Linked DNA regions of Homo sapiens: region 2 is linked to region 1. The links come from fine-mapping of genetic effects on gene expression. A gene starts in region 1. The other region holds a variant in brackets. All regions are shown on one strand. Distances are between the middles of the regions. Region 1 holds the start of DNAJA4 (DnaJ heat shock protein family (Hsp40) member A4). Region 2 holds the start of SKIC8 (SKI8 subunit of superkiller complex).

Region 1 (15,235 bases):
CCCGTGGAGCTCCTGCAGTCACTGAGATGAGCTGTCCTGGTTTACTGGCTGCCAACTTTGAGAGATGACTTAATTAAGGGCATGAAGTTTTTCATCTCAAGACAGTGAGGGAGCTGGACAAGAGAATACCCAAGGTTTTTTTTGTTTTGTTTTGTTTTTGAGACAGAGTCTTGCTCTGTCCCCAGGCTGGAGTGCAGTGGTGCGATCTTGGCTCACTGCAAGCTCCGCCTCCTGGGTTCACGCCATTCTCCTGCCTCAGCCTCCCGAGTAGCTGGGACTACAGGCGCCTGCCACCGCGCCCACCTAAGTTTTTGTATTTTTTAGTAGAGACGGGGTTTCACCATGTTAGCCAGGATGGTCTCGATCTCCTGACCTCGTGATCCACCCACCTCGGCCTCCCAAAGTACCCAAGGTTTTATCATGTCCACACCATCAATTATAGGAGCAGGCGATATGCTCAAAGGACAGAGGAAGGATTTTTCCCTAATAAACACTTTGTGATTTTCAGCACTCTATGTTCACAGAATTGACACCCAAGCTTTTTCAAGCTCAAAGTCAATTACAATGTGATAACAAGTGCAGCTTCATTTATCTAGGGGCCTCTCACTGACCAAAGCCACACTTCTTAAACCCCAAGGCAGAGCTCATTTCTTCTGACTTTATCCAGAATTGTAATACGCTTGGTTATCTTTCTGGTTTCAAGATCCAAAGCAGCCTGACAACAGTAAACTAAACAGGGGGAATGGGAACTAGTCTATTAGCAACTACTAACAACAGAGGTGACAGCCCGTAGCCTGGCAGAGGTGAGATGCAGAAAAATTAGGAAGAACAAATCCCGAGAAAGTCAAAACAGTGGCCTGGGGCCATTGAGCTAAGGGCTAAGAAGTTCCTCATTCACCTCCTGGGGATGAAGTTGCTACTACTCATAATGCATTCTGAAAAGAAAGGCAGGTCATTTATAAAGATTTCAAAACATAAAGAGATGAATTTTGTTGCCTAGAAAATCCCCTGAGCAGGCTGGGAAATGAGGCCATACTGAACATGGCAAGAGTACCCACCTAGAATTAGAGAGCCTGCAGCCCACGCCCAGGTCAGGGAACATGGAGGGCCACAAAGGGAGGGTGGGCAAGAGGAGAGAGGAACACTCTCGGTAAAGGATCACTGACAACCACAGGCGGCGTCATCTACATCCCTCAGCACACTCTGGTGCCTGACCCCAACAACAGAGGAAAAGAAGGCACGATGAACTTCACCTTCCTCTTTTCTATCCACCACTCCATTCGCTACTTCATATGGTATTGGAGGGTGTCAGATAATTACTAAATTTACCAAGAGTTTCCAGGTAGCCTGAGCACTAGACAAGTGATAAACTCTTTAAAGTTAATGATCTCAAAACATGGCAATTGTACCTGGTGGGGTTTTTTGTTTGTTTGTTTGTTTGTTTGAGACAGGGTCTCACCCTGCCGTGCAGGCTGGAGAGCTCACTGCAGCCTCGACTTCCTGGGCTCAAGTTTTCCTCCAGCCTCAGCATCTCAAGAAGTAGCGGAGACTACAGGCATGAGTCACCATGCCTGGCTAAGTTTTTTATTTTTATTTTTTTTGAGATGGGGAGTATCACTATGTTGCCCCGGTTGGTCTTGAAATCCTGGCCTAAAACAATTCTCCCACCTTGGCCTCCCAAAGTGCTGAAATTACAGACATGAACCACCGCGCCTGGCCCAATCATATCCTTTTAAAGCATGATCTATCCTGATTCCAACAACACGTATAATTGTGGAAACCATACAACTTATTTATGTTTCTTTAAAAGCATTTACCTCTTCTCTCTCTAGCCATCCGTCCACCACCACCAAAGAACATGTCAAAGATGTCCATGGGTGAAGAGAAGCTGGGGCTGCCTGAGCCTCCTTCTTTAATTGCCTGCTCTCCGCCTTGGTCATAAACATCCCTTTTCTTTGGATCTGAAAGCACTTCATATGCCTGGGATATGAGTTTAAACTTTAAAAGAGAGAGAGAGAGAGATTTTTAGAGAAGTTTCAGTTGTTTTGTTAAGCAAACCTGCCATATAAACATACAAAGTAATAGAGGTATTCTGCCCCCAAACCCTTGAACTAGCCAGTCTATACATCCTCTACCTGGAATCTGACTTGCCTGTCTACCTACTCCTTTGGTAAAGTGGGAAACACAGGGCAAACATATTAAGGGACTGGTGGTAGGGACACGATAAGAATAAGGGAGAGAAGCCAGTAGAGAGGGAAAGTTTCTCACTAATCCGGCTGCACCAGACAGGAAGTCGAGACCAGCTAGGATACCATGAGACAGTGCCAGGGGTGAACCTCTAACCAGATAGAGCCAGGACTCTGGGCATTACCACTGGCTCACCTCCTCATGGGAATCATTTCACTAGTTTACTAGAATGAAATTCAACTACAGGCATCTGTGAGCATCTAACCACGTGCCAGACATTGGATACAAACCTATACTCCTGATCCTCCCCCAAAAGCCCCGCCCCACCCATAGTCTTCCCCATATCACAGTTATTGGCAATGCCAATCTCACCTGTCAACAAATCCCACTGATGCTACCTTCACATTTGCATCTCCAGTACCCTAAGACAGACACAATATCCCATGTGTAGCATTCCTGCCAAAAAGTTACCACTGGAACCCAATTGTACGAAAAGAATCAGAAAACCCAAATTGAGAGATACTCTAAAATTAAAAGATAGAAAAAAACGAATACAATGTGTGATCCTGGATCAGATCCTGCACAGGGGAGAAAAAAAAAAATGGCTACAAAGGACATTATTGGAACAATGGGAGAAATGTGAATCTTTGTTCCCAATGTTAAACTTCTTGAATTTGATAACTTTACTATGGTTATGTACAAGGATGTCCTTGTGCCCAAGAGAAACACGCAGCACTTAGGGCTGAAAGGTTATGCTATAGGTAGCTTCCTCCCAAAATCTTTAGCCAACAGTAATAATAATAATAGATAAAACAAATGTGACAACTTATTTATAACTGGTAAAGCTAGGTGAAGAATACATAGGTGTTCATTGTATCACTCATGTTTTCTGCAGGTATATGGACATTTTTAAAATAAAATCAGAATGCGAAAACATGCAAGATCTGTTCCTTCTTACCACACCACATCCACTCTGGCTGAAGGCACCATCTCAGGCCTGGACCACTGCAGTGGCCTCCTCCGTGGTCTTCCATGTGCCCTCCTCACCCCAGCTTTCAGTGTGTTCTCCACTCGAGCCCACTAATTGGGTCGATCCTCTGCTCAAACCTCTACAAGGTGGCCCACGTCACTGGGAGTAAAAGCCAGTCCTAACTTTCATCTATAAGCCCAACTTGGCACCTGTACTTTCCTCTCCTCCTGTGTGTCCCCACCCCAATTCTATGCCAGTTTCAGCAGGCTCCCTGCTGTTCCTCAACTCTGCAGTCTGGGCCTCAGAGGCACCTCAGCCTGGTGCGGCCTCCCGACTCATCTCTTTCCAGCCTTAGCTCACAGACCACCTTCTCAGGGATGCCTCCTGGTGATCCAGCTTTAACACTGCAAACCCACCTCAGACCCTCCCAGCCCCCACAACTGCTGCATATTTCTCCATATCATGAACCACCTTCTAACAAGCTGCATCATCTACTGCTTATGCTGTAGCCCCCACTGCAACATAAGCTCCATGAAGATGGGGGGTTTTGTCCACTGCTGTCTAACTGAGCCTGGAACCATGCCTGGCATGTAGAAGGCACTTGGTAAATACCTGTTAGATGAATGGCTCGATTCTGGGAACTCAGAAATAAATAAATGAGGTAGGATCTTGGCCCTCCAGAGGCTACAGTTTAGTCGGAGAGACAAATATGGATATATAGATAAACAGATCCTATAATGCAGCTGGCTCCAAAAAATATTCAGGGAAAAAAAGTGCCATGAAATAAGGAATTTGAGAGAGAGAACAAGGGAATTTGAGGCATTAATTCCCTTGTTCTACAGATCCCTGATTGAAATCTAATAAGTAACCAATAATAATAGCTAATAAATAGCTAAAAAACTACAATTTAGAAAAGTCTTAAAAAGACATCAGCATCATATATAAGGCAGCTAGATCTTTTGATATGTTAATTCTCATACCATTTCTGCGAAGAAGTAAGTACCATTCACTACTATCCCTTTCCTCAGCAGAAAACATGAGGTAGAGTGTAAGGATTGGGTGCCTGGTACAGATCAGAAAGCAACTAGGCCAGGCTGCCCCTAGACAGTTTCTGCGTCTATCTGCAGGTCAGGACTAGGTAAATAACTTCATGGGAACGTCCACCGGAAACACTCACCAAATACCCTGGATACTCACATGTCATTTAGACTTAATAGAATGATCTAAGAATGGAAAAGGAGTACCCAGTTGCTTGGGACATTCAGTCAGAGGCCAGATCTCACATGGGATGGGGGTTCCAACTACCAGTAGGGAGTCCATCCTCTAGGGTCCCAGCACTCCAAAGTCTAATTCAGCTCCCGGCCCGGACCCCCTTCTCCCAGTGGGAGACGAGTGCTATGATGAGCTTGCCTTTCAGACCATGATCATTTGCCACAGAACCTTAACAGGATTACTATACAGCTGAGGGGAAAATGGCTTTGAAGACTACGTAACAACTTGGGAAAAGTACTTATAATAAAATATTAAGTGGAAACAAGAAAACAAAATGTCTATGTATCAGGATGGCCATGTATGATCATACTGGGGAAAGCTTGGAAAGAAGCACAGAGTGGTTAGGATAATGTGTACTTGGTAGGTTTCCCTCTGTGTTCTAAAATTTTCTGCATGGTTTGCTATGTTCTGATTTTTGAACTTGAAAGTCTATTATTCAAACTAAAAGTTACAATGAAATTGACCAAAAGACCAAACTCATCTCAACAGGGTAATAGCCAAGAATATACCCCACATCATTGCCCCTAAAAGGGACTATCTTGGTGACCCACTACCTACCACCCATGCATCTTGCAAAAAAAACAAAAAACAAAAAAAAAACACCCGCAGAGAAGTACAGACTCCATACAGAGTGCCCAAAAAACACAAGGTGCCCCAATGCTTAGCAACAGGGGACAACAGGGCAAAAAACAAAGACCAACATTTCAACGGCCTTCTCAGTTTTCCCAGCAAGGGGTAAAGAACTGGTGTAGTCTATTTTTGAAGAGACGTTAATAATACAGTGACGAACTTAGGAGGAAAAAAAAATTTAAAGGTTCTACCTGTGATAAAGTGGAAAAGAACTACACACACATACACACTCACATACACACTCACACACACACTCACACACTCACACACTCACATACACACTCACACACACACTCACATACACACTCACAAAAGGCCTGCACAGTGCACCCAGCACACAGTGGGGACCAGAAGAGGAGGTATTTGTTGAATGAATGAATGAATGAATGAATGAGCTCTCTCTGGGGAACTCTACAGCCGTTTCTATAAATTGTGTCCCCAGTCTCCTCATCCTCTTTGATTTCCGATCTAAATTGCCACTCTCCTCCCAATATCCCTTTCACTGCAATTTCCCTTCCAATTTGTGCCTTTATAGGGCCCTCTCCTCCTACACACAATTTTTTAAAGTGCATTTACTCAGCCAGCTAACAAACATTTTAGCACCTACCCTGCACAGCTAGATACTCACCCCATAAGTGGCCATGGGGGCACAGTCACTGCCCTGCTTACATTATGGCAGGTAATACAGTTATCAAACAAGTAATCACCATTAAAGGAATACAGTTAATCAAACAAGTAATCACCATTAAAGTAGGATGCACGTTGGGCCTGTGGTTCAGTCTATGAGGCAGAGGCAGCCTCCTGGAAGATGTTTTAGCTGAGAACTAAAGAGTTTTATCCCCTTCCATGAAGGTAGAGGAAGGAAAGTATTCCTGGCAATGGGCACATCACAGAACCCTTCCCTCCAAGCTGATGGGCCTGCCAGACCTCACTGCCAAGGGCCTCATTTATGTGACACTAACTCAGTGCCTGGCTATGAATAAATATTAGTTTAAAACAAACCAAACAACCTGCCCAGACAGGTATAGACAGGGTGAAACCTACACATATGTAGTACAGGTCAAGTCTAATTTTTTAAAAATAAAAGCTTCAGAACAAAAGCATATTCAGCTCTAACTGTATACACAGAGGCATGAACTTACTCTTGTGAGTGCTGAGATTTGACCTGAATCCAGGGTCAGGCTTTCCCACATGTCTTTAGCCAGCTTGCTGAAATGTGAAATTAGAAGCCTACAAGCTCTCCTTAAAGGAGACTGTCAGAAGCGGACCACAATGAATGTAGGGAGCAGGTGGATGAATCACCAGCACCATGTAAAACGCCAGTGCCTTTAAAAGCTACAGTAAGCCATCTAAATATAGATGAGAAAGAACGCAAGTGAGTAACAGACAAATGGTCTTACAGGAAAGCATTTTAAACTTGTGACAGCCACATTCAGCACATGTGGCTAAATATAAATATTCCATCACTGTTGCCATTCAGCCAACCGTCCTGAAGTAGCTTTCTCCAGCTTGGAACAACTAACACAGACAGGTATTTTGATTCCAGCGTCGTTTCCACAGGTCTTAAATGCTACATGGGTGATTGGTGTGGTTTCAAACGTGGCCCAAGTGACACTGCTATCAGCTACTATAACGGCCCCACCTCTCAAGACCCATGCGGAACAACCAAAGTTTTGTAAGAAAATGGCAAGAAGTGAAAGGAGGAACGGGAGGGTTAGCAGCCTTTCCTTGCAATGCCTCATCCTTCAATTCACCTATTCAGGTGGGTCATGAGCCTCTTTAGAGATAAAAAGCAAACTTTCTGTAAACAGGATGGAAAAGCTTTTAACTTCTGTCTCTAAAATGCAGAGCATTTTCAGTCTATGATTGGTACTTATGATCAACTGTGTGTCACTTGTCACCGAAAACCCAGAATATGAGTACAAGCTGATGTCAGGTTGCAGATGTCCGTGTCCCTGTTTAATAAAGAAAATGGGATTATTCACTATCTGACGCTTTTATCAGGTAGGCAGTAGGTGCACAGAACAAATCCAGCTAGTCATTCTCAAGAGAGGCACGGCGTTTGTCCAAGGTACCAGCTCAGATTAAAGACACTCATCCCTAGGGTTTATGCATCAACAGAGAATATGAGCCAGTCGTTCCCAGCAAGTAAACAACTGTTTGTGTGTGCCTCAGTTTCCCGATTCCCAGGCCGCCTCTCCCACAGGGAACCAACACACCCTATGAGAACTAGTCCGGCGCGCACGGCAGGGGCTACCCAAACACTTGTGGAGCGAATGGAGGAATGAATGGGCTCGGCAGGGACTCGCGAGGGACCCAAGTGCCGCACCACATGCCTCCTCCGCGGGCGAAGCGCCCTCCACCGACCGCGCCGCACGGCGCCCAGGGTCTCCCGCCACCTCTGCCCGGCCTGGCCCCGAGGCGCCTGGCGACAGCCTCCCCAACAAACGCGGCTCAGGTTTCCCGTCGCCTTCAATGCTCCTGGCTTAATAACCCTTGGCCCCTCGGGAGCCCGGCCCGTGCCCCGCGCCGCCCCGCACCTTCTCGCCCTCATCCGGGTTCTTGTCCGGGTGGTACTTGAGCGCCAGCTTCCGATAGGCCTTCTTGATCTCCTCCGGGGACGCGCTGGGCTTCACGCCCAGGATGTCATAGTACTGGGTCTCCTTCACCATCTTGTGTCTGCGGGGGGGGCGGGCGAGGCCGGTCAGAGCGCCCCGGACGCCCCTGCCGGCACCCTGGCCCGCGCCCCTGGCCCGCGCCCCCGCCGCCCGCTCGCGCGTCACGGTCACGGTCGCCGCCGCCGCCGCCGCTTGTAGCTCCCGCCCGCCCCCCGCCCCGCGCCGGACCGACTTCCACGCCTGGCTCCACCGCACTAGAGCCACCGGCTCCTCCGCGGCGGGTTTTATTCGGCGCCGGCGGAAGCTTCCGCAAGGAGACGGTGACGCCACAAAGGCCTAGAACCTTCGCGGAGGTTCCGGCGGCCCCGCGGCGGGTTCGCGGCCCAGACCCCCGACGCCCGTCCGGCGCGGCCCAGCCGCTCACCTGGGCTTCTCGGGCGTCTGCTCCTTTGGCTGCCCGTCTGATTCCCCGGAGCTCCAGCTCTGACTGCCGCCCCGGGCCATGGCGGGGGCCGGAGAAGGCGGCTTGGGCCTGGAGGGCGCCCTCCGACAACTGTCCCGCCGCCCCGAGGCCGCCCCCTTGCCCTTCCGTGGGTCCGTGGAGCCGGCTGGCTGGAGAGTAGGCGGCCTGGAGGGCTGTGTTGGCCGGAGCCCTGCGCCGAAGGGTGGGACTGGGAGAGCTGCGCCCTGCGGTCCCCACCCGGCCTCTCCCCGGGGGTGTGGCCGCCGTCTGTTCGGTCACAGCCAGGCTGCGGCCTAAGGTGTGCCTGGGATTGTTGCATTTTTTAGGGGGTTGGAGTGGGTAGGGGCCCTCTGCTGCCTCATGACTGCAAGGCTGAGGTGAACCTCTGGCCTTCCAGTTGAGGTACAGGGGTCCTTTGCTGGCCCCAGATGTGGACAGTATCCTCTCGAATGCCCACCACTGGGAACCCTTAAGTCCCTCAAGGTGAGCAGTGACGTCCCCCACATATGGGCAGTGACGCCCCCCAAGTCTGCCAAGGGCCGACAGTGCCCTCTCTTCTCCCAGAAGTGGGAAACTGCCCCCTCTCCTCTGCACATCATCAGTGAGCAAACATCAGGGCCCGACCAGGCTGTTGGGCCCAGTGTTATGCACAGGGGGTCCCATGGCCTGGACCCTGAAACGGCTAGGTGGCCCAGGATGCTTGCCTTGGAAGGGTACAGGAGTAGGTCCCGACTTCCCTAGGCTGCCCCCAGCTCCCAACGGGTGCTCAGGGAGTCCAGATCACAAACCGTTGCAGAAAAGTGGGCGTGGAAAGCAGGCCCCAACGCTATCACAGAATTGCAGGCCCCTGTCCCCTAGCCCTCCCTTGGCTTCTGCCAGGGGAACAGTTTGTCAGAAAGGGGGGTCACTGCTCACCTCCCTGGGATGCCCTGGCCTTGTTTTGGGTACTGTGGCTGAAGCAGGTACTACCTCTCCTCCATGTGTTCCATGGGGGTGAGAAGTGACTTGTACTGTACAAGAGAAATTAAGCTGCTCTTCTTGGAGATGTTGCTTTTTTTTTTTTTAAATTATGCCTTGTAGAGCAGAACCTTTAGGCAGAGAACTCAGAGCTAGAGGTCAGAAACTTTGTTTTCTATCCAGATCTTACTGTCTGAGCCTTAGCATCTCAACACTTTTCTTCGTCAGCAGGACATGGGGATTGCCACTTGCCTGCCTTTCTCACAGGGCTCTTATAAGCATCAAATGGGATGATAACTGTGAAGACTCCTAGCGCAGTGGGTCTCAAACCTGGCTCCTGACAGAGATCACCTGGAATCTTCTAAAAATCCCTCTGGGTTGCACTCCACACCTGTTACCTTAGAGCTTCTAGGGGTGAGGCCCAGGCATCAGTGTTTTTCAAGCTCCCCAGGTGGTACAGCCAGAGCCGAGATCCACTGCCCAGGGTCACATACTTGTCCAGATTTAGTACTCGGGACCATAGGCATTCGTAAAATGGGCATGTGCAGGAGAGGGATGGCTTAAAGACAGAGCCTAGAAACATAGAATGGAGCTATGCACTTTGGACGACAGTGAATTCTGGAACCAGTGAGACTTAGACCTAGGTTCAAATCCCAGCACTGCTACTTCTGGCTGTGGAACCTTGGGCAGACAACTTAACCTTTCTGAGCCTCAGTTTTCTTAACCTTTTAATGAGGATATTAATTATAACTACTTCATAACTTTGTGAAACACCTGGTATATAGTCACAATATTGATGCTTTTTGGGGGTGGGGGGGTGCGGGCAGGGGCTAAGGTATAGAAGCTGATAGTGATTCTCTTCTTGATGGAACTTAGCCAGGCTCCTATGAGCCCTCTTCTCAACTAGGCTTCAGTCTTGGCCTATAAAGACTGAACAGACAGCAACACAGTTTCTAATAATTCAACGTCACATCCTTAAGATCACCAGTTCCCAGGCTTTTTGGCACCAGAGACCAGTTTCATGGAAGACGATTTTGTCACGGACAGGGTGGTGGGGGTGGGCAATAATTCTATGATGAAGGCCTGGCGTGGTGGCTCACACCTGTAATCCCAGCACTTTGGGACGCCGAGGTGGGCAGATCACTTGAGGCCACGAGTTCAAGACCAGTCTGGCCAACTTGGTGAAACTCCATCTCTACTAAAAATACAAAAATTAGCCAGGGATGGTGGTGCTCGCCTGTAATCCCAGCTACTCAGGAGGCTGAGGCACAAGAATCGCTTGAACCCGGGAGGCAGAGGCTGCAGTGAGCTGAGATCACACCACTGCACTCCAGCCTGGGTGACAGAGCAAGACTCTGTCTCAAAAAATAAAAAATAAATAACAATAGGATTGTCTAGTAAAATCAGATATTTTTGGCCAGGTGTGGTGGCTCAGGCCTGTAATCCCAGCACTTTGGGAGGTCGAAGTGGGCAGATCACTTGAGCTCAAGAGTTTGAGACCAGCCTGGCCAACATGGTGAAACCCCGTCTCTACTAAAAATACAAAAATTAGCCAGGTGTGGTGGCACGTGCCTGTAATCCCAGCTACTCAGGAGGCTGAAATAGGAGAATCACTTAAACCCGGGAGGCAGAGGTTGCAGTGAGCTGAGACTGTGCTACTGCATGCCAGCCTGGGCAACAGAGAAAGACTCTATCTCAAAAAAGAAAAAAAAATGGAGGATGAAACTGTTCCACCTTAGATCATCAGGCGTTAGATTCTTATAAGGAGCATGCAACCTAGATCCCCCGCATGCACAGTTCACAGCAGATTTCAAGCTCCTGTGAGAATCTAATGCCACTGCTTGGTTCCTGACAGGCCACAGACCAGTACTGGTCCGCAGCCTAGGAGTTGGGGGCCCCTACCTAAGGTGACCCTGGCCCCACTACCCCCTCTTAAAGTGCCTGCCTGAGAAAACTCAAGGCTGCCAAAATATTTACTGTGTTTTTGTTTCATCCAACACCTGAGGATAGAGCTTCTGTCTCCCAGTCTCTTTGGGAGAACGGCATCCTAACTTTGGCAATTGGCAGCTAGCAGACACAGCTGGCCTAATGTCACTTACACTGACCAACCCTTTGTCATTTTTCACTTCCCTGATTCTGTTAAACTGCTGCTTGTCCTTCTCCCTATTCCCTCATGTTCTTTTCAAAATGCCCAATTACTTTTCGTACAAATCGATATTGAGCTCAGTTCATACTAGATTGTTTTCCCTATTGCAATAGTTATGACTGATTAAATTCTGTCCTTACAATTTTAACTACTGTTCAGCTTTGTTTATCTTAGACAAAGCCTCTGACAATCTAGTAGATTATTTCCCAGAATTATGCTTGGGAGGATTGGAGGCATTACACAGACATTTCTTATTTTGTCAGTTATGTGTTTATTTTCATGATGACCTTTTCATTACTGCAACTTTTATTAAAAGTGACACTGACTTTCCACTCACAGTAAGCAATGTATGGTTTCCTTTTTATATTCTTTTAAAAAAGAGTAGATAAATAGTAAGTGTATGATAGTACCTGTAGTACAAGAATAAAGCAACAGTGGTGATACTTGAATGACAGAAATTTGGGAAATGCTGATCCAGTTCTACCATCTCATTCTACAGTTGGGGAGACTTTTAGACAAAGAAGCCACATTATACAGAACAGCCATTGTCCCTTGATGCAGTGTGGGGCTTCCTTTCTGACCCAGTGTAGAAGGAGAGTCAAAGCAAGCACGGAAGTAGGTTTTACCCAAGGAATGCTGGGATGGGGTCTTCAAGGAGTCTTCTGAGAGGGAGAAGCCACACCTACCTGGGGAGGGGGGTCAGGAAGGACTTCATGGACGAGGGACATGTGCCATAGACCAGGAAGTTAGAGCTCCCTTTAGCAGCAGGGAAAGGGAGGGCAGCCATGCTGAACGGACAGCAGGATAAAGGCAGAGAGCACAGATGGATGAAGGCTCTGAATTGGAAGGGAAGCAGGGACAGGTGTGCTAGAGCCTTGAATGCCTTGAGGAGCAGTTTGCTGCTCTCCTGGGCCCTGGGGAGCCATTGAAGGTTTCAGAGCAGGACCTGCGTTCTGAGAGGTGTAACTAGCAGCAGACCCCGGGGGCTGGGTGGATCTGGACCTCCTGGGAGAGGCCCAAGCTGGGCATGCCGGTTTGTAGAGGCAAGCCCAGAGAGAGGGCATAGAAGGAGAAAGAGAGCTCCAAGGAAAAGCGTTGGGGAGCGCCTGTCTTTAGGAAGTGGAAGGAGCAACAGCCATCGGAGAAGCAAGAGGAGAACCCAGAAAGCAGAGAGGACCAAAATCATGCAAGGCCAGAGCAGCGAGGGGTAGAGGAGACAGTGCCTGGGTGGCAGAGAGGCTGGGAATGGGGGGGACCAGTACTTCAAGGGGAGGACATTAATTTATTGGCCCCCGAAACAGCAGTTGTCATTTCAGGCCATTGTTTTAATATTGGGAGGGATTTCCACTTGGAGAGGCCTTGCCCCTCACTGGCTGTGTGACCCTGGGCAAATTAGCTTTCTCTGAACATCCATTTCCTCCTTTGCAAAATGGGGATAAGAACATCTGCTTCACAGAATTATTGTACAGATGAATGGAGACAATGTGTAAAGGGCTTACCATGTGCAGAAAGCACGTGTTCTCACGATGAAATTTATTGATTTCATCACAACAGGATTTGTGCACAGCAGCTATGTGTCTGGCTCTGTGCTGGGAACCAACAATACAGCACTAGATTAAGGTTATGCCTGTCCTCGAGGAGCTCAGAGACTAGCTGCACCTCAACATCTGACTCCAACCACTTTGGGTGACCCCTAGCACGGGCTGATTTTGCTAGCATTCCAACCCATAGAATTTTCTAAGAACTCACACTGAAGTAGTTAACCGTTGCCACCTTGCTTGAACAATAAAACCTGAGCCCCTGGCTACATTCCTGTGGGTTAGGGCCTGGTCTCTGAGAAGTCACTTCTTCCTGGAACTTGGCCTTTACCCAGAGTTGCTGTCACCAGAGGTTGGGGCTGCCTCTGTTTGGGGAGAAAAAAACTAAGAAAGTGAGGGAGTGGTCATCCTGCCACATATTTGGGCTTTAGAGACAAAATTCTGAGGTTTTCTCATCAGGGCACCCATCTTTTGAGGTCCCAGAGTCCAGAGAGAAGACATCCCTCCATCCTTCCAACAGATATGTAAAGTGCCTTTTGTGTCCAGTGTTGCAAGAGGCTTTGGAGCACACCGGGGAACAGATCCTGTCTCCCCCACACAGAGGACAAGAAAAAATCTAGAAATAAAGCTCTAACTGTAGGAGCAAAGGAAAAGTGTCCTTTTGAATTCTGGGTGGTCAGAAGGAGGAGATGACCTTCGCATGAATCCTGGAGGTTGAGAAGGAGCCAGGCGTGCAGGACTCGGGTTAGGGAGTTCTAGGCACAGGCAACAGCACGTGTGAAGGCCGCAAGGTGTGAAGAACCAGAAAGGAACCAGTGTTTCTGGAACAGTGATGGAGAGGGGGCATGGCCTTCAGGGCAGAGTGGGATTTTATCCTTAGGGCAGCAAAGGTGGGGGGTGTACTTTAAAATTTTTGTTGTATATTTATTTCATAAATTTTATTTTTTTAACTTTATTTCAGCAATATCTCTATGTTGTTACAGACAACATCTTTGCATACTTTGTGTTCTATTTTCAGTAATGCCAGATTATAAAACATTTCTTGAGTCATTGTAGCTCTCAGTTTCAATTTGGAGACATTTTGCTCCTCTGAGGCATAGCAAAATCCTCAAAGCAGTCCTTAGATTCAGAAATGAACCATGGATTTTATATGCTTGAATGTCGTAATGGAGTCTCATAAGATAATTGAGAGTTACTGTAGAAATATTACAAATATTTTAATTCCATCATATAATAGCTATCAGTTTTTTTAAAAAAAAAGTTTATAAAAACAGCTGACACACAATGAATTGCACCTATTTAAAGTGTACTGCTTGATCAGTTTCGATATATGTATATACCCATGAAACCACCATCTTAATCGAGACGTGAGCGTATCTATTGCTCCCAAAAATATCCTCATGAAAGAGTATATATTTAAAAGCCTGCTCAAGCTTGTATTGGTCTGCAGTTAAGCTGGGGCCACAGGCCTGTTCTGCTGTCTCCTAGTTTGTTTTTTTCCAGAAAATAAACCCATCAGCGCTTCAGTTGTGATACTGGCTCCATCACTTCTTAGCTGCGTGACCTTGGGCAAGTTACTTAACTTCTCTGCCTCAATTTCTTATCTGTAAAAAAATACCTACCTCAGGGGGTTGTGAGGAATATAAAAGGTTATGTGTGTGTGTGTGTGTGTATACACACCCACACGTGTGTATATAAATTATAGGATGAAAAGCTCTTGGACAGTGCTTGGCACAGTGTTCAATAAATACTGGCCATTGTTGTTATTTGATACAAAGAGCTCCATACATGCATCTGCCTAGAAGGATTCTATTTGGAAATACAAAAAGCCCAATAGGGTGGGAGGCTGAAAACCCTTCAGGGGAACTTGGCTGAGACACTTACCATAATAGTGCCACTGTTATAGGGTGCCTTGTTATAGGGTGCCTTGTGTGTGTGTCCAGTAAAAGCTACACTTAATGATTTTTTTCAGATCTTTCCTCAGCCTCGGCCAGTCCTATCTCAGCAGTAGTGGCCGGTGTTAAGTATGGTGCCTAGAAAATTACAGACTATTCCAGACCAGGAAGGAAAGTTGACTTCATCTTCAGATACTCAGGCTCCAGCCTGGAGACATCTCATCTCTCCTCTGTCACTCCTTCCCCATTATTAAAGTTTGTGGATGTTCCTTAGAGTCTCCCAGACCTGTCTTGGCTTTAAGGTGAGCCCTCATCATCCTCTGCCTAGCCCTCTCCAGTCACTCTCCTTGCATTCCAGAAGTCATAGACCTACTCTGGAAGCTTTGATGGATCACTGAGTAGAATAATGAAATCCAAATCCTTCCCCTGGCATTGAAGTTTTTCCATGGTCTGAACTCAGTTTACCCTTCTTGGCTCCAAGTCCTCAGAGCGCTGTTTGCACTGTCAGAGTAGTGTGGTGCTGTTCACCAGCTTGGAAGGTTGAGAGAAGTAGCCTGAA
Region 2 (15,235 bases), 42 kb before region 1:
AGATTCACAAAGGAGGGACATTGTTTGATGGGAGAGGAGGCAGATCATAAGGAGTGTGAGCATTGAGGCCAGAGAGGAGGGCCTCACGCCAGCCCACAGCCCTGAAAAGCCCATAGGATGCTGCCTGGATCTTAGAGTTGTGCACAGCAGAAGCCCCCAAGATCTGGTTGCTGAGAGTGGGGAGGTACAGGGCGGAGATCCTGTTGTGGGTTGGGTAGATATCGGAGGGTGAAGGAGTCCAGCATTGGAGCTGTCCTGGTTCGAAGATTCCTTCAGTCTTCTGCAGTCCTCCCGACCACAGCTCAGCAACAGGAGCAGGCTGGTGTTGAGGGGCGGCTGGGGCACCACACTGTGCTGCTGGGGCCCACTCTGCCTGCCCTGCATTTGGCTGTCCAGCTGTGGCTTGTACATCCCCTGGGACTGGAGGCTTATACCTCCAAGGCAGCCCCTACTCCTGTGGCATGGTTCAACCTGTGAGAAAGACCCTTCTTCCTATGAGTCCAGGTGCTTCTCTGTGGCCTGTCCCTAGAGCCTGGCCCCGTTCGAGGTCAGAGACTATATGCATTCCCTCGGACCAGCATAGCCTGACTGAGGTCTGCCCAGCAGGCCCAGCACCCACCCCGCCTCTGCCTCCCCGGTCTCTGCAGGCCAAGGATGCTGCTATTTTTTAGCCATTCCGTGGAGTATGACCTCCTCATCCCCCCGAAACACTGCCTCTCCTCTAGGACCTCAGCTCGGCAGGATCCCTGTCCTCCTGACTGAGTGCTCAGAGCGGATATTCTGCAGTCTAGGGGCCTCTATTACTTGGTTTCCCGTTCCCCACTGATTTGGCAGGAGCCTGGAATTGAAGTCCGTGGAGGATCTGGGTCAGTTTCTTTACATCTAGAGCTTTGCTCAGAGAATAACTCAGTTCTTCAGGCACAAGACACCCCCAATAGCAGTTACCCCCTACACCAATGTGATGAGTTCCCACAGACACCCCAGCCCACCCAGCACAGGCCCCTCACTGACCTCCCAGCCTCCAACAGGTCCCCTGGTTCCTGGCCTTCTCCCGACGGCTGCAAAAGGCTCTTTGGAGTGTCCCTATTCCACACCCCTTCTCACCCCTCAAGAAATCATCTCTGAAGGCAAGGGAATGAGAACTTTATTTGCACACCAAAAAAAAAAAATTGGCCGAATTTATCAAAACAGTGGATTATTTGCAATCATGGGTGCTTGGAAACTGTCTTAGCCTGGATTCCCCCTAAAGCAGAGCCTGAGACAAAGACCCCAAGCAGGGAGCTGTCTTAGGAATTCAATCCCAGAGAGCAGGAGTGAGGGGCAGGGGCGGAACAAAGGAAGAAGCAAAAGCCAGATCAAGGATGCACTGCTGAGTTGGCCACCAGCGCTGAAGGGCCTGTGTCAAGCATCTCAGAACTGTCCCTCAGGGGCCAAAGGGGGAAATATTTACTCATCAGCTTCAATCTCCCATTGGTCAAGGCTGTCCCACAGGCAACAATTCTTCTGGGTGAATGTGGAGTGATTCCCAGGGCAGGAAGATAGAGGTGGAGACTGGGGGAGGGGAGGTGCTGTCAGCTCACGCTTGGGCAGAGCTGGTTGAAACTTGTGCAGAACGGACCCCAGGGTAGTGGCTGTACTAAGAGAGAAGAGGCTGAGAAGATGTGACGTGATGCACATAAGCTGTCCTATGCAGTAGTCAGCTTCATCGCGTGTGACACAGGCAGCTCACAGCTAATGTGACAAGTCAGTGGGAAGGACACCATGGTCAAGAACAGCTGAAGTGGATCAGAAGGTCAAAACTGGAAGGAGGCTGGGCGTGGTGTCTCACGCCTGTAATCCCAGCACTTTGGGAGGCCGAGGCGGGAGGCTCACTTGAGGTCAGGTGTTTGAGACAAGCCCGGGCAACACAGGGAGACCCTATCTCTACAAAAATAAAAATAAAATAAATTAGCCAGGCATGGTGGTGCACACCTGTAGTCTCAGCTACTCAGGAGGCTGAGGTGGGAGGGTCGCTTGAGCCCTGGAGTTTGAGCTGCAGTGACAGTGATCACGCCACTGCACTCCAGCCTGGGTGACAGAGCAAGACTCTGTCTCAAAACAAAAACTGAAGGAGTCCCAGAGCCAATGGACTCACGGGACAGACAGCTAGGGAAACTGAGGTCCAGAGAGGGTTCAGGCAGAGGCAGGCTAGAGAGTCTCCCTTTCAGAGCCAGAGATGGTTCCTGAGGCCATCTGGGTGACTTGCCAGCTTCATGCCTGGCACACACTTAATGATCAAAACTAGGAATGATATCAACAGTGACAATAACAGTAATGGCTCCTGATGTGAGGTTCCGTGTTCTGGCTGCTAAGCCCCTCGGCCTCCAGGGGCACTTTGGGCGTAACTGCACAGCAAGGTCTCCACATGCTTTCATTCTTCTGCTATTAATTTTAGTGCAATGGCAGTCAAGGAGTAAAAGCAGTGCTTTCACCTGGATATGCCAGCTCTGGCACCAGGATGCACTGGAGACTCACATCTAATGGGGGGCCTGGACCTCAGCTCTCTCTCTGAGTTAAGGGCAGTGTGTGGAAGGAGCTTTGTGGTGAGGCTGTTCTAAAGCTACCTTTGGCTTCTTGAATTCCCTTTGTCCTTCAGAAGTGCATTCGATACAGGAGTCCTGGGACTTTCCCAAGCTTACCAGCTTGGGGCCAGCACCTGTTCACCCTGGCAAGAGATCCTGGGCTTAACCTGTGGCAGGAAGGGATTTCCAGGTTCTTTTGGAAACCTCACGGCGGTGAGTTCTCTTCCTAGAGCTCCTTTTGCCCCCTTGCCTCCCAAGTGCAGGCCCCTCTGGGTCAGCACTTCCCTGCAGTCCTGCCTTTCCCACCTGGCTCTCAATCCTTTGACCTCCCCCCAACCCCACCACCAACTTTGTAAATAAAAATCCCTATATTTTCAGCTCTTTCACGGTCCCTTATTCCAACCTTGCTGTCACCACAGCTGGCTCTCTGTAGAGGACAGCGGTTCCTGGCAGCCTCTGGAGGGGACACTGCAGGTGTGCACACCTGGATTGAGACTGACACCCCCAGCAACATAACAGAACCACTCAAGGGGATGCTGGAGCTGGTACATACCAGCTTACCAGAGCAGATTGTACATATTGGTCAGCAACTTCCTGTCCGTGGCGTGAAATAGCCCATGGGGCATGGTGGCAGGTGCCTGTAATCCCAGCTACTCGGGAGGCAGGAGAATCACTTGAACCCAGGAGGCAGAGGTTGCAGTGAGTCAAGATAGCTCCACTGCACTCCAGCCTGGGCCTGGGCAACAGAGTGAGACTCCATTTCAAAAATAAAAGAAATAGCCCATGGGAGCTGTATTTACACTATGGAAATCAGCAAATGCTATAAGCCAGGTTTAGGGTTTTTCTCTGAAGAGCCTGTTGTTAAACACCTACCAGCACACCATGAACCCCTGATTCTCCTCCTTCTGCCCCTTTGAGACTCTCACCATCCAGGCAGACCCCTGGCTATGTTTGAATGTGTCCCCCAAAGTTCGTGTGTTGGAAACTTAATCCCCAAAGTGACAGTGTTAGAGGTGGAACTTTTAAGAGCTGATTAGGCCGTGAGGATGCCACCCTCATGAATGGATTCATGCTGTTATAGTGGGAGTGGGTTCCTTATAAAAGGACAAGTTCAGCCCCTCTTGCACTCTCTCTCTCTCTCTCTGTCTCTGTCTCTCCTCGCCTTCCCCCATCACCCTGTCTCTCCCTCTCCCTTCCTTGCCCTTCTGCCTTCTGCCATGGAATGACACAGTAAGAAGGGCCTTATAAGACACCAGTAACTTGATCTTGGACTTCCCAGCCTTCAGAACTGTGAGAAAAGAAATTTCTTTTCTTTCTAAATTACCCAGTCTTGGCCAGGCACGGTGGCTCAGGCCTGTAATCCCAGCACTTTGGGAAGCCAAGGTGGGCGGATCATCTGAGGTCAGGAGTTCAAGACCAGCCTGGCCAACATGGTGAAACCCCATCTCTACTAAAAATACAAAAATTAGCTGGGTATGATGGCCCACACCTGTAATTCCAGCTACTGGGGAAGCTGAGGCAGGAGAATCGCTTGAACCCGGGAGGCGGAGGTTGCGGTGAGCTGAGATCATACCACTGCACTCCAGCCTAGGAGAGAGAATAATAATAAATAATGATAATAATAAATTACCCAGTCTCAGGTATTCTGTTATAGCAGCACAAAACAGACTAAGACCCCACCTCCTTTTCCTTCGTCATCATGCTCACCTACCAATCTCTTCTATCTCATTCATTGCAGACAGTGGCACTAGCTCACAGCTTCCATACCCAATTCCTGCCACCCTTCAGAGGCTTACAGCCTCCTCCTGGCAGGCCCACCACCCTGGCCTCCTTGGCTCACCCTCCTACACTCTCAAGTGCCTTGGCAGCCATCTTTTTTGGCCTGACTTTGCTGCCTCCTATGTGAATAGGTAAATGCCAACGATGTCCAGAAAGTGATGGCATGATCCCCAACTACAGCAGAATTTCATACACAGCTGGGCTTCACGGTCCCTGTCCCCTCTCCACACATAGGACCTGATTCCCTTCGGTTGCACTTTGGGTCCCCGAGAGGTATGACTCAGTCCCCCAGTGTGGGGTGAGTCTACTCCTGGTTCCTGCCCAGTTTTGAAGGATGTGGGCACAGCGGAGGGACTCAGGCCCTGGATTGGCCCATCCGGTCTCTGGGCCATGCCCACAGCCTGCTCAGAGCAGAGAGTCAGGCTGCATGAGGACTCAAGGGGTCTGAGTTCTGCTCCCTACTCCACCACAGCTTTACCAGGTGCTCTGGATTAACCACGTGCTCTCCCTGTGCCAACTTTTCTATAAAATGGGGATACATAATTCCTACACCTCTTATGTAGGGAGAATCAGAGGAGCTAGGGCTTTTCCGCTGGAAAGTCGATCTTGGTTGAAGATGGCTTAGAGTCCTGGTGAGAAAGAGTCATTGTGAGCTCCTTGAGGGCAGGGATTTCATCTAACTCCTTTGAGTATCCCCAGCCTGGCCCCAAAAAGGTCCAGTTGGTGGATCCTGGCAGAATAGCCAAGTACTGAAGGTGACCACCAACCGCTGGTCAGCAGCTGGTGAAGCGAATTGAAACCCCACCCTGAACAGTTGCTGGGTGCAAAGAACTTAGTCCCCCAGGCCATGCTCGCAGGATGCAGCCCCTCAGTCAGGTATGTGCAGAGGATGGGAGGCCTCAGCTGCTTCTGGGCAGGATGCTCTCTCCCTGGCTTCTTCCTTCTGCTGTAACTCCCTTGGGGATCTCACTTCCAGAATCTACAACTGTGGTCTGGGAACCACACTTTTGAAAACCACTAGGGATTGAGACCATGGTGTTAACAATTTTGTTTTCAAGATGAGGAAGTTGAGGTCTAAGATGCCTTTACGAGGGGTCCCATAATGATTCAAGAGCAGGAATTCACTGCCTCCGGAGTCTGGAGGAGCCCAGGAGGGCAGGTACTTGCTACTCCATCAGCGGCGCCAGCCAAGTGGGCATGCGTAGGCAGTGACTGCCATCCTCTGGCCAGCCGTGGTAAAGCCCCTGGCTAGTGGCTCCACTGTGGTGGTCTGTGTTCCCGACTGGGGACTGTCAAGGACCCTGATTGCAGGGTAGGAAGCCAGTTCCAAGAGGTTCCCTGATTCAGTATCCATGGACCAGCTGAAGAAAGGAGTGATGTGTCCTTGTGGGTTTGGATTTGAATCCAGACTCCCGCCTCTGGCCCCATAATTGTCCTGCCCTCACCCTCTCCATACCCCTTTCTTTCCTGTGAGCTCCTGTTTCCCCGCTTTCCCTCCCTAATACTGTGGAATTATGAACAAAAAAATCAGCTACACCCAATTCAGCATGGGTTTCCATCCTTACTCTGCCTTGCTGGCTGAATGAC[C/T]CTGCAGAAGCCACTTCGCCTTTCTCAGGGTCAGTTTCCTTCTCTGTGTGAAACAGGGTGACTCCCTCCTCCGTAGCACTAGCGAGAGTTATTTCTCAGGGCGTGGCCCAGTCCATACATCCACCATCACAGCTCTCCCAGTGTTTGAAACCAAAATTAAAATTTGAAGACATTAGTGTCTCCAAAGTGGAATGTGTATACCCCAGACAGTGAGCAAGACCGTCTGGAGTATAGGAAGAAAATATTAGATCTTCTGATATTTATTTTTATCTTGTCCCTCTTCTATTTTTATATTTGTTTTATAATGTACATAAATATTATAGTAGTATAAATACATATATATTTATAAATAATGTACACACAGGAGAATGCATGGTGATAATTTTTTGTTTTTAATTAATTAATTTATTTTTTTCGTGAGAGAGGGTCTTGCTCTGTCACCCAGGCTGGAGTGCAGTGGCACCATCTCAGCTCACTGCAGCCTCTGCCTCCGGGCTTAATAGATCCTCCTACCTTAGCCTGCTGAGTGGCTGGGACCACAGGCATGTGCCACCACACCTAGCTAACCTTTTTTACATTTTTGCAGGGAGGGGTTTCATCATGTTGCCCAGGCTAGTCTCAGACTTATGAGCTCAAGTGATCCACCTGCTTCGGCCTCCCAAAGTGCTGGCATTACAGGCATGAGCCACCGTGCCCAGCCAGTAATAAATTTTTAATAATAGGTACATGTGGTCACTGCTTTAGAAAAGAGGAGGCATAACTTTCTAGAAGTTTCCTTGTGAGGAAATGCTCAGAGTGGCTGATTGCTGGGTGAAGTCTGGAAGTTGCCCTGGCTATAAACTTCAGAGATGTAAATACCCTTAGCCATCTGGCAAGCTAGTGAGGAAAAGAGACCTGGGGGCTTTCAGGGCCTTCCCTAACAGTGGGCTGTATGTTTGAGACGTCCCAGAATGGCAATTGTAAGAGTAATCCTAGCTGGCATTTATTGAGTGTTTTCCTTGTGCCAGGCACTGTTCTAAGCATTTTACATATTTTAACTCTATTAATCCTCATATCAGCCCTAAAAGGAAAGTTCTAGTATTATCCCCATTTTAGTGATATCCCAGTGGGGTTACATAATTTACCAGAGCCTTGGGTGGAGCAGCCAAGATTGAGCCCAGGCATTGTGCTCTAGAGGCCAAGTTGTTTAACCCCTTTGTGCCAAAACTGGAAACAAAAAGCGCCTGGGGCCTATCTGGTGGGGCATGGAGGAGAGAAGGAGGTGCTGCTTGATGAAAGCGGGGAAGCTTGTGGGGCAGAGTGAGGGTGGCATCTGTAGAAGGAGAGGGGCACCACATGAGACACTGTGGCCCGCAGGAGGGGAGGGAAGAGGGGGACTAGGAAGAAGGAGAGTCGGGTGTCAGCTGTGGGGTCCAGAGAGGAAACCTGGGATAAACATCAGAAAGGGCAGGTGGGGTCCCTGACATCAGACTCTGCCAGCTGGGGTTCTGAGGAGAGCCTTGAGAGCTCTACACAGGGCAGATGTGGCCCATGGACCTCCCTCTCCTTCTCCCTGTGCTGAGCAGAGAGCAGGACTTTTGCCTGCACCCCTCTCCAGACCTGCTGATTCATGTCTTTCCCGGGAAGTCAAGTAAGCCTTCCCGGAACTGGGGCGGAGGCAGCTCTTCCTCCCAAGGAGGTAGTGAGCTCCCTGTCCTTGGAGGTATTCAAACAGAGGCTGGATGATCCCATGGTGGGGTTGTATAGAGGGAGAGAGGTATGAGATAGATCTGTGAGGTTCTTCTTCATTCAGAAATGCTTGGACCTGTGACTGAGTGGAGAGGAGAAGTATAGGGGTAAGTCCTGGGACACTGTGGCCTAGTATCATTCTTCCTGCTTGAGCCTCTCTGTGGGTCTGCTCTATGCAGGGCTAGTTGGAAAGGCAGTGAATGACTCAGGGAACAATTATGTCCCTGTGGGGCTGCAGCCTTAGAGGGGGCCTCCCAACCTTGGCCTCTTTATGAATTGTAGAGCTTTTCAGGGCAGCCCTTACATCTTGGAGCTACTTCATCATTAGCCTGGATGTTTACCTATCTTATTCTAAAATCTTTTCATTTCCTCCTGACCTGGAAGACCAGAACTCTAATTACAGATGTTTAAATGTCACATACAATGGCAAGTCTCTCCAGATTTGCTTTACAATGGGCATTCCGTGGATCTGTGAACTTTGATAGGAAAATAATTATATCTTTATTTCCCTTAAACTGTAACTGGAATTTAATATCTTCTTTAATTATAAATGTATGCAATAAATCTAGGAGTATTAGTAGTACCTGTGACTTTGTCACCAATACAAATCACAAATATTTTCGTATCACATTGCAGCTGTTGCAAGTAATTCTAAATATTGTTTATGCTCACTGCTACTTTAAAATTACAGAACAGGCTGGGAGCCATGGCTCATGCCTGTAATCCCAGTACTTTGGGAGGCTGAAGTGGGCAGATCACCTGAGCCCAGGAGTTTGAGACTAGCCTGGGCAACATGGCAAAACCTCTTCTCTACCAAAAAAAAAAAAATTACAAAAATTAGCCGGGCATGGTGGCACATGCCTGTAGTCCCAGCTACTTGGGAGGCTGAAGCGGGAGGATCGCTTAAGCCTGGAAGATTGAGGCTGCAGTGAGCAGTGATTGCGCCACTGCACTCCAGCCTGGGTGACAGAGCGAGACCCTGTCTCAAAAATAAAATAACAGAAGATATTAGACATGCTGCATTAATAAAGCACATATACTACTGTTTCACAAATATTTTGATAACTACTTTGATATAATTGGTTTCCTTTGTAATCCTATGTGGCTTGTTCTTATGTACTTGAAAACATTATTCTGCCCCACCTGGCTGTTCTGTGATCTCATGACCTTTGAGTGGGAACTCAGACTCAGGAGGGCTGCTGCCAGCACTGGCCCAAATGACTTCGGTGGTTTTTACAGCACGCTGGAGAGAATCTGAGAGGATTCCCTGGCAGGAATTTGAGGATTATCTGGGTGATGCATCAGTGATTACAATTTTGTTTTTACCAGTTTTGCTAAGCAGCAGCAATAGCAGAGGTGATTAAGAAAAATGAAAGAAAAAAATGCAAAAAGAGAACAGGCAGAGACGGTGGTAGCTGCTTTCTTGATGTTGATACTGAGGGCCAAGCTTTCCACCACCCCCTTGTAGTTGCAGAAAGCCTCAGATGTAATGGTAGTGTTACGGGATCTTTGGACGGGTGTGGGAGGTATTGATTTTCTTCCTGGGAGCGCCTTTGCCTGAGTTCTTGTCCTGTGTCCAGGAATAATGAGGTACTCGAAGAACTTACTGAGTGTTAAGCAGCTCAGAGAAGACCCGCAGTGGGTAGCTCCTCTGAGCAAGTCATCCCATGGAGTGTTCAGCTCTCAGCAGACAGGAGGCCTGGAGAGGGTAGCTCCCCCTCTGCCCACTGGTTATCCTGCCACCTGCTGCTCTCAGCAGAAAGAAGACCCAACCCTGGAGAGGGGAGCTGCTCTCAGCAAAAAGAAGACCTCACCCTGTAGAGGGGGGCTGCTCTCAGCAGAGAGAAGACCCAACCCTGGAGAGGGGGACTGCTCTAGGGGATCCTGGCGGGGGGTGCTCCTGGAGAAGGAGGCTGTTCTGGGGGATCCTCTCCTCAGGTCATTTGGAAGTCTCTACAGGAGGAGGGGGGCCTCCTCTCCGCAGGTCCTTTGAAAGGCTCTGCAGGTCTCTGCAGCTCTGGCAGAGAGGGTAGCTCCTTTCTACAGCTACTCTTCCCGCTGTCTCTCCATCCTCTCCTGCAGTTTGGCTGAGCCCAGGGCTTTTATGGACCTCAGAAGGGAGGAAGTGTGTGCTGACTGGCCCATGGGCGGCCATGGGTGAGCCTGGAGGAGGCACCACAAGCTCCCACTCAGGTCTGTGGGACTGGCAGCCTGGTCCCCAGTCTTCAGTCCCTCCCTGACCTGAAGGTGGGGCCTTACTGGAGACCTACCCCCTTCTGCCCAGGAATCGATCTGCCTCCTACTGTCATTCATGGCCCCTGGGGCTTGGCCCCAAGCCCTGCTCCATGATCAGAGCAGGGGCGGCAGCAGAGAGAGGCCAGGCAGCAGGAACAGACACCCCCTAGCGACGGGGTGCGGTGGGGTCCTTTCTGGGGTCCACGAGGGTGCAGGCTGCAGAGACCCTCTGGGTCCTGCACCTAGGAGGGCAGATCTTGCCTGCTCCCAGCCCCCTCCAAGAGCACCGGGAGGCTCGGATCCACAGCCGCTGTTTGGGCAGTTGTAGCCCCGCCCAGGAGGGTGGCGACCCTGCCTGCTCCGTAAAGCAGGAGGCCTGGATCTGCAACTGCTGTTTGGGCGGCTGCAGCAGCACCTGGGGAGCTCTCCCCAACTCAGAAGGGGGAGGCATCCACCAGCATGCAGCCCCAGCTGTGCCTCCCTGCCGCAGCCCGGTGATGGCAGCAGCTACTGCAACAATAGTGTAAACAGTGGCCGGGCGCGGTGGCTCACGCCTGTAATCCCAGCACTTCGGGAGGCCAAGGCAGGTGGATCACGAGGTCAGGAGATCGAGACCATCCTGGCTAACACAGTGAAACCCCGTCTCTACTAAAAAAAACACAAAAGAAAATTAGCCGGGCGTGGTCGCGGGGGCCTGCAGTCCCAGCTACTCAGGAGGCTGAGGCAGGAGAATGGCGTGAACCCAGGAGGCGGAGCTTGCAGTGTGCCGGGATCGCGTCACTGCACTCCAGCCTGGGCGACAGAGCGAGACTCTGTCTCAAAAAAAAAAAAAAAAAAAGGGTAAACATTTTGAACTGTATGCATTATTATATCAAGGAGTAGCATATCTTGCATGAATGCTCTCTTTTGTGTCTAGGTATTCTAAACACTCTTAATGTGAAAATGAAGTGCATGTAGCAAAAACCTTTTATTATAAGAAACTTTACAACACTTGTGAAAAAAATTAAATTTGGTTTGTGCACAGTGTAACCTTTCTCCAGATATTGTCCAAAATTACACACGCACAAACCGTTCACCCTAATTAGGCGTTGGCCTCAACCTAAACATCTGGGACTGTTATCTATTAAACTGCTGCCAGAATCTTACATCCAGTTACCTCCACTTTCTAGAACATATTCTCTAATAATGCCATAGAAACCAATTTCTACTCCATACTGATGTTTTTTTGCAACAGCAATTAAAATTTTTTCTTCCAAAAAACCCCATTGTTCTGGGACAGGATTCATTGGTTTCATCAGATGCCTGAGACGTCCACAGTGTAAAAAAGGCCAATTATTCTAGCTTTATAGTCCCAATGCTAAGGTCATGCCAATGATCCCATATGTCTGGCCCTCTGGGGGAATGTGGTGAAAGTAGGTACTTAATACATCCTTTTTGAATGAATGGTTTGGAGTTCTTGTCATAATTATAGAATTATAAAGCTGGAAAGTCTTTAGAAAGTCTTTATTACAATGATTTTCAAAGTGTTTGGCCATGACTCATAGCAAGAAATGGATTTTCACTTGTGACCCAGTAACCGCATGGGTGAAACAGTTTTTATAAAACATGATGTAACTTTACTATGTATGATGCACTCTTATATCTTCTATTCTACTTCTTTCTTAATGTATTCCATTTCTCTTTTTTGAGATGATTAATTGAATTTTTATCCAAAACAACTGGCTTCAATTGAAAATTATTAGTAGCAGATTTGGGAGCAAGTAAACAGAAATGGAAAGCCTTAGTATTTGGCTTAATTATTCTAAAAGCACACTGATCACATTTATGCTTTTTTAATTTTAAATTTTAATTAAATTTTAAGTTAAAAGGCATAAATGTGATCAGTGTGCTTTTAGAATAATTTGAAGGTGGGGTATTTAAAGTTAATGTGTAGAAAAGAAAAAAAACCTTACATAACCCCAGATCACACAAATTAAAATTCACTTAGTCATACAGTTGTGAGCACTTTTGACAGCCAAAATTTCACCCTTCTTAAAGTAGGAGTCTTTCAAAAATACTTCTTCATATTCAAAAGCTAAAAGTTAGAGTGAAGATGGCCCAATTATCTCGGTGTGGGAGAGGTTACATAATAATCTATTTCCAAAACCCACAAAAACCCGTAAATGTCACCAACAAAAACAAAGCAGCAGATTGGCCAAAACTAAGGCAACTGGTTATACAGGAAGGCAGCAGGTCACTCATTTAACTGCTAAAAGCCATTGCTTTGTAGTACTAATGTTAATTCCTTTCCACACTTCAGGAACCCACATCCCAGCCATTGCAGGGTCAGTTTCTGTGTATTTAGCTCTGTGGAATGTGCCCGAACACCAGTCAGCACTTAAGTCAATCTAAGTTTGAAAATCAGCTCACTGGCTTCATGATATAATTTGTACATTCTTCCTTAGCTTCAGGGGCACATGCCTGACCCTGGTCCAATAGATCCAGAATGGTTACAAGGATATCTTGACTTATAAGAGATGCCACATAAGAATTTTGACAATTCAGTCTTGAAGTCTGCTCACTTTGACCCAAACTTTTTAAGCCAGTGACATGCAGAGGGTCCACTGGGGCTGGATGAAATTTCTATGGACAGAGATGTCACAGAGCTGGGAAGGAGAGAAATAGCTCTCCAGTCAATGTGACTGAGAAAAATTAGTCATATCACTCTGAAACATGTGAACTTGAGGGTTAAGGATGCTGGCATGCAGGGAAGTCATGTGTGCAGCAGAAGAGCTGCAGGATGTCTTCTCTTTTGTGTTAATGTGAGATTACTGAGGACAAGAGAATAGGTCCTGGGAGATGTGGGTGTATTTGCCAATTTCTCACCACACATAGCCTCCTCAAAAAGCCCCCAAAGATGGCCAGGTGCAGTGGCTCATGCCTGTAATCCCAGCAACTTGGGAGGCAGAGGTGGGTGGAGCACCTGAGGTCAGGAGTTTGAGACCAGCCTGGCCAACATGGTGAAACCCCGTCTCTACTAAAAAAAAAAATACAAAAAAAAATTAGCCGGGTGTGGTGGTGGGTGCCTGTAGTCCCAGCTACTGGGGAGGCTGAGGCAGGAGAATCACTTGAACCCAGGAGGCAGAAGTTGTAGTGAGCCGAGATTGCGCCACTGCACTCCAGCCTGGGTGACACAGCAAGACTCAGTCTCAAAAGAAAAAAAAGCCCCCAAAGATGAACTTCACCTAGTTGTAAGTGGTCTAATAGTCCTCCGTCTCTCTCTCTATATATATATTTGAACTTCAAAACTAGTTTTTTCGAAAAATATTTTTTAGAGCCAGGGTCTCACTCTGTCACCCAGGCTACAGTGCAGTGGCCCAATCATAGCTCACTGCAGCCTCAAACTCCTGGGCTCAAGTGATCCTCACTTCTGCCTCCTGAGCAGCTGGGTCTACACGTGCACACCACTGCGTCTGTAACTTTAAAATTTTTTGTAGAGATTGGGTCTCGCCATGTTGCCCATACTGGTCTTGAAATCACGGCCAGAAGCAATCCTCCCCCCTTGGCCTCCCAAAGTGCTGGGATTACAGGAGTGAGCCACCACATCTGAGCCACAGGGCGGCCTCCATAATGGGGCATGAGCCTCTTCCCATCTTTTTTTGTTGTTGTTATTCGAGACAGTCTCACTCTGTTGCCCAGGCTGGAGTGCAGTGGTGTGATCTGTGCTCACTGCAACTTCTGCCTCCAGGGTTCAAGCGATTCTCCTGCCTCAGCCTCCCAAGTAGCTGGGATTACGGGCACATGCCACCACACCCGGCTAATTTTGTTTTTGTTTCTGTTTTTTTTTTTTTTACTTGAGACGGGGTTTCACCATATTGGCCAGGTTGATTTCAAAACTCCTAACCTCAAGTGATCCACCCACTCCGACTCCCAAAATGCTGGGATTACAGGCATGAGCCACCACACCCAGCCCCATCTCTTTTTTTTTTTTTGAGACGGGGTCTAGTTCTGTTCCCCAGGCTGGAGTGCAGTGGCGTCATCACGGCTCAATGTAGCCTCAACCTCCAGGGCTTAAGCGATCCTCCTGCCTCAGCCTCCCAAGTAACTGGAACTACAGGCATGTGCTAATTGTTTTTATTTTTAGTAGACACGAGGTCTCTCGCTATGTTGCCCAGGCTGGTCTGGAAACCCAGAGCTCAAGCAAGCCTCTCACCTCGGCTCCCAAAGTCCTGGGATTACAGACGTGAGCTACTCTGCCTGGCCCTCAAAAAAAAAAAAAAAAAAAGTCAGTTGACAACCTATTAAACTGATATCTGTCACGTTAATGGGTCATGACTAGCAGTTTGAAAGACAAAGCTCGATTTCACTGAATTTATTTCAGCAACAGAAGTTATTAGCTTTAGTCCAATCTCAAAAGTACAAAATGAAATTGCAACACAAACCTCTAAACCTGCAGTTGCCGGAAGCTAAACGTCTGCGCTTCCGGAAGCAAATTTCCAACTACCACTCCTCTGGAAGCAGGACCTGGCTTCCTCCCTCCTCTCTCCGCCCACCCTCGTCGGCGTCTGCCCCGCGCCCGCCATAGCGACGGCAACGGGCGCTGCGGAGTGCTCCGAGCCGTGAGGGCGGGGCCGGCGCGATGCCCCGCCCCTTCGATAGCTCATCTTTGCGCGTCGCAGTCGCGCGGAGCCCGGCTTCCGACGTGCAGCCTGGCAGTGCAGTGGTGAGTTGGAGCGCAGGGCCGTTGGGGATTGGGGTCATTAGGGCCGTTGACAGTCCAGGCCAGAGGGCGAGTGAGCGAGGTTGGGCCCGAGGCTGCCTGTAAGCAGGTCCGTTCAGGGATGCTCCAGGCCCTGGGGCCTGAGGGTGGCTTCCATGGCTCCATTTGCCCTGGCTGTTCCTCGGTGTACGGGGCCTGAGGGGAGTGGGGGAGGCCCGTGGGTGGCCTCCTTTTGCGTCCTGAGAATGTTCTGGGCAGTATCGAGATTAGGGCTGGTTTCTCTGCGGAGGAGATCATTTATCCGTAGCTGGGAGGGCTGTATTAACCGAAGTTTTCCAGTAGTGGGCCACGCTGTCTTAGGTAGCGTGCTGGACAGATACAGACATCACTGGACGGGTACAGACAGAGGCTGGGTTCGCTTTACGCCAAGTACCGTGCAATACTGTGGGCTGTTGACTTGCCTGAGTAGTTTCATAGAGGCATCTGTAGTGTTCCTTGGAAACACTGAGTCAGTGATGAATTCTGCCTAGGAAATTTAGGGAAAAGTTTCCCAAAGAGAGAAGATGGCAAGAGAGGGCTAAGGTCTAAAGTCTCTTAGCTCTGACCTTCATAAGACCCTGAAGTAAGAGGTAGTGTATCTTGGTAG

The links.
Region 2: its variant is fine-mapped to the expression of DNAJA4 in blood mononuclear cells (TOPMed, PIP above 0.99).

What each region holds. Positions count from the first base shown.
Region 1 is chr15:78,257,260-78,272,494 of GRCh38, reverse strand. It overlaps DNAJA4 (DnaJ heat shock protein family (Hsp40) member A4), which reads right to left and starts at 7,933. Exons shown (of 7, transcript NM_001130182.2): 1 at 7,600-7,933; 2 at 1,818-1,998. The coding sequence starts at 7,731. It overlaps DNAJA4-DT (DNAJA4 divergent transcript), which reads left to right and starts at 8,351. Exons shown (of 4, transcript XR_001751621.1): 1 at 8,351-8,438; 2 at 8,538-8,623; 3 at 14,754-14,978. RefSeq lists silencers at 7,400-7,689, 8,000-8,079.
Region 2 is chr15:78,298,919-78,314,153 of GRCh38, reverse strand. SKIC8 (SKI8 subunit of superkiller complex) reads left to right here and starts at 14,545. Exons shown (of 11, transcript NM_025234.3): 1 at 14,545-14,592. RefSeq lists enhancers at 14,148-14,237, 13,413-14,379, 14,478-14,827, 14,380-15,235. The variant C/T (reference allele first, on the strand shown) is at 5,928.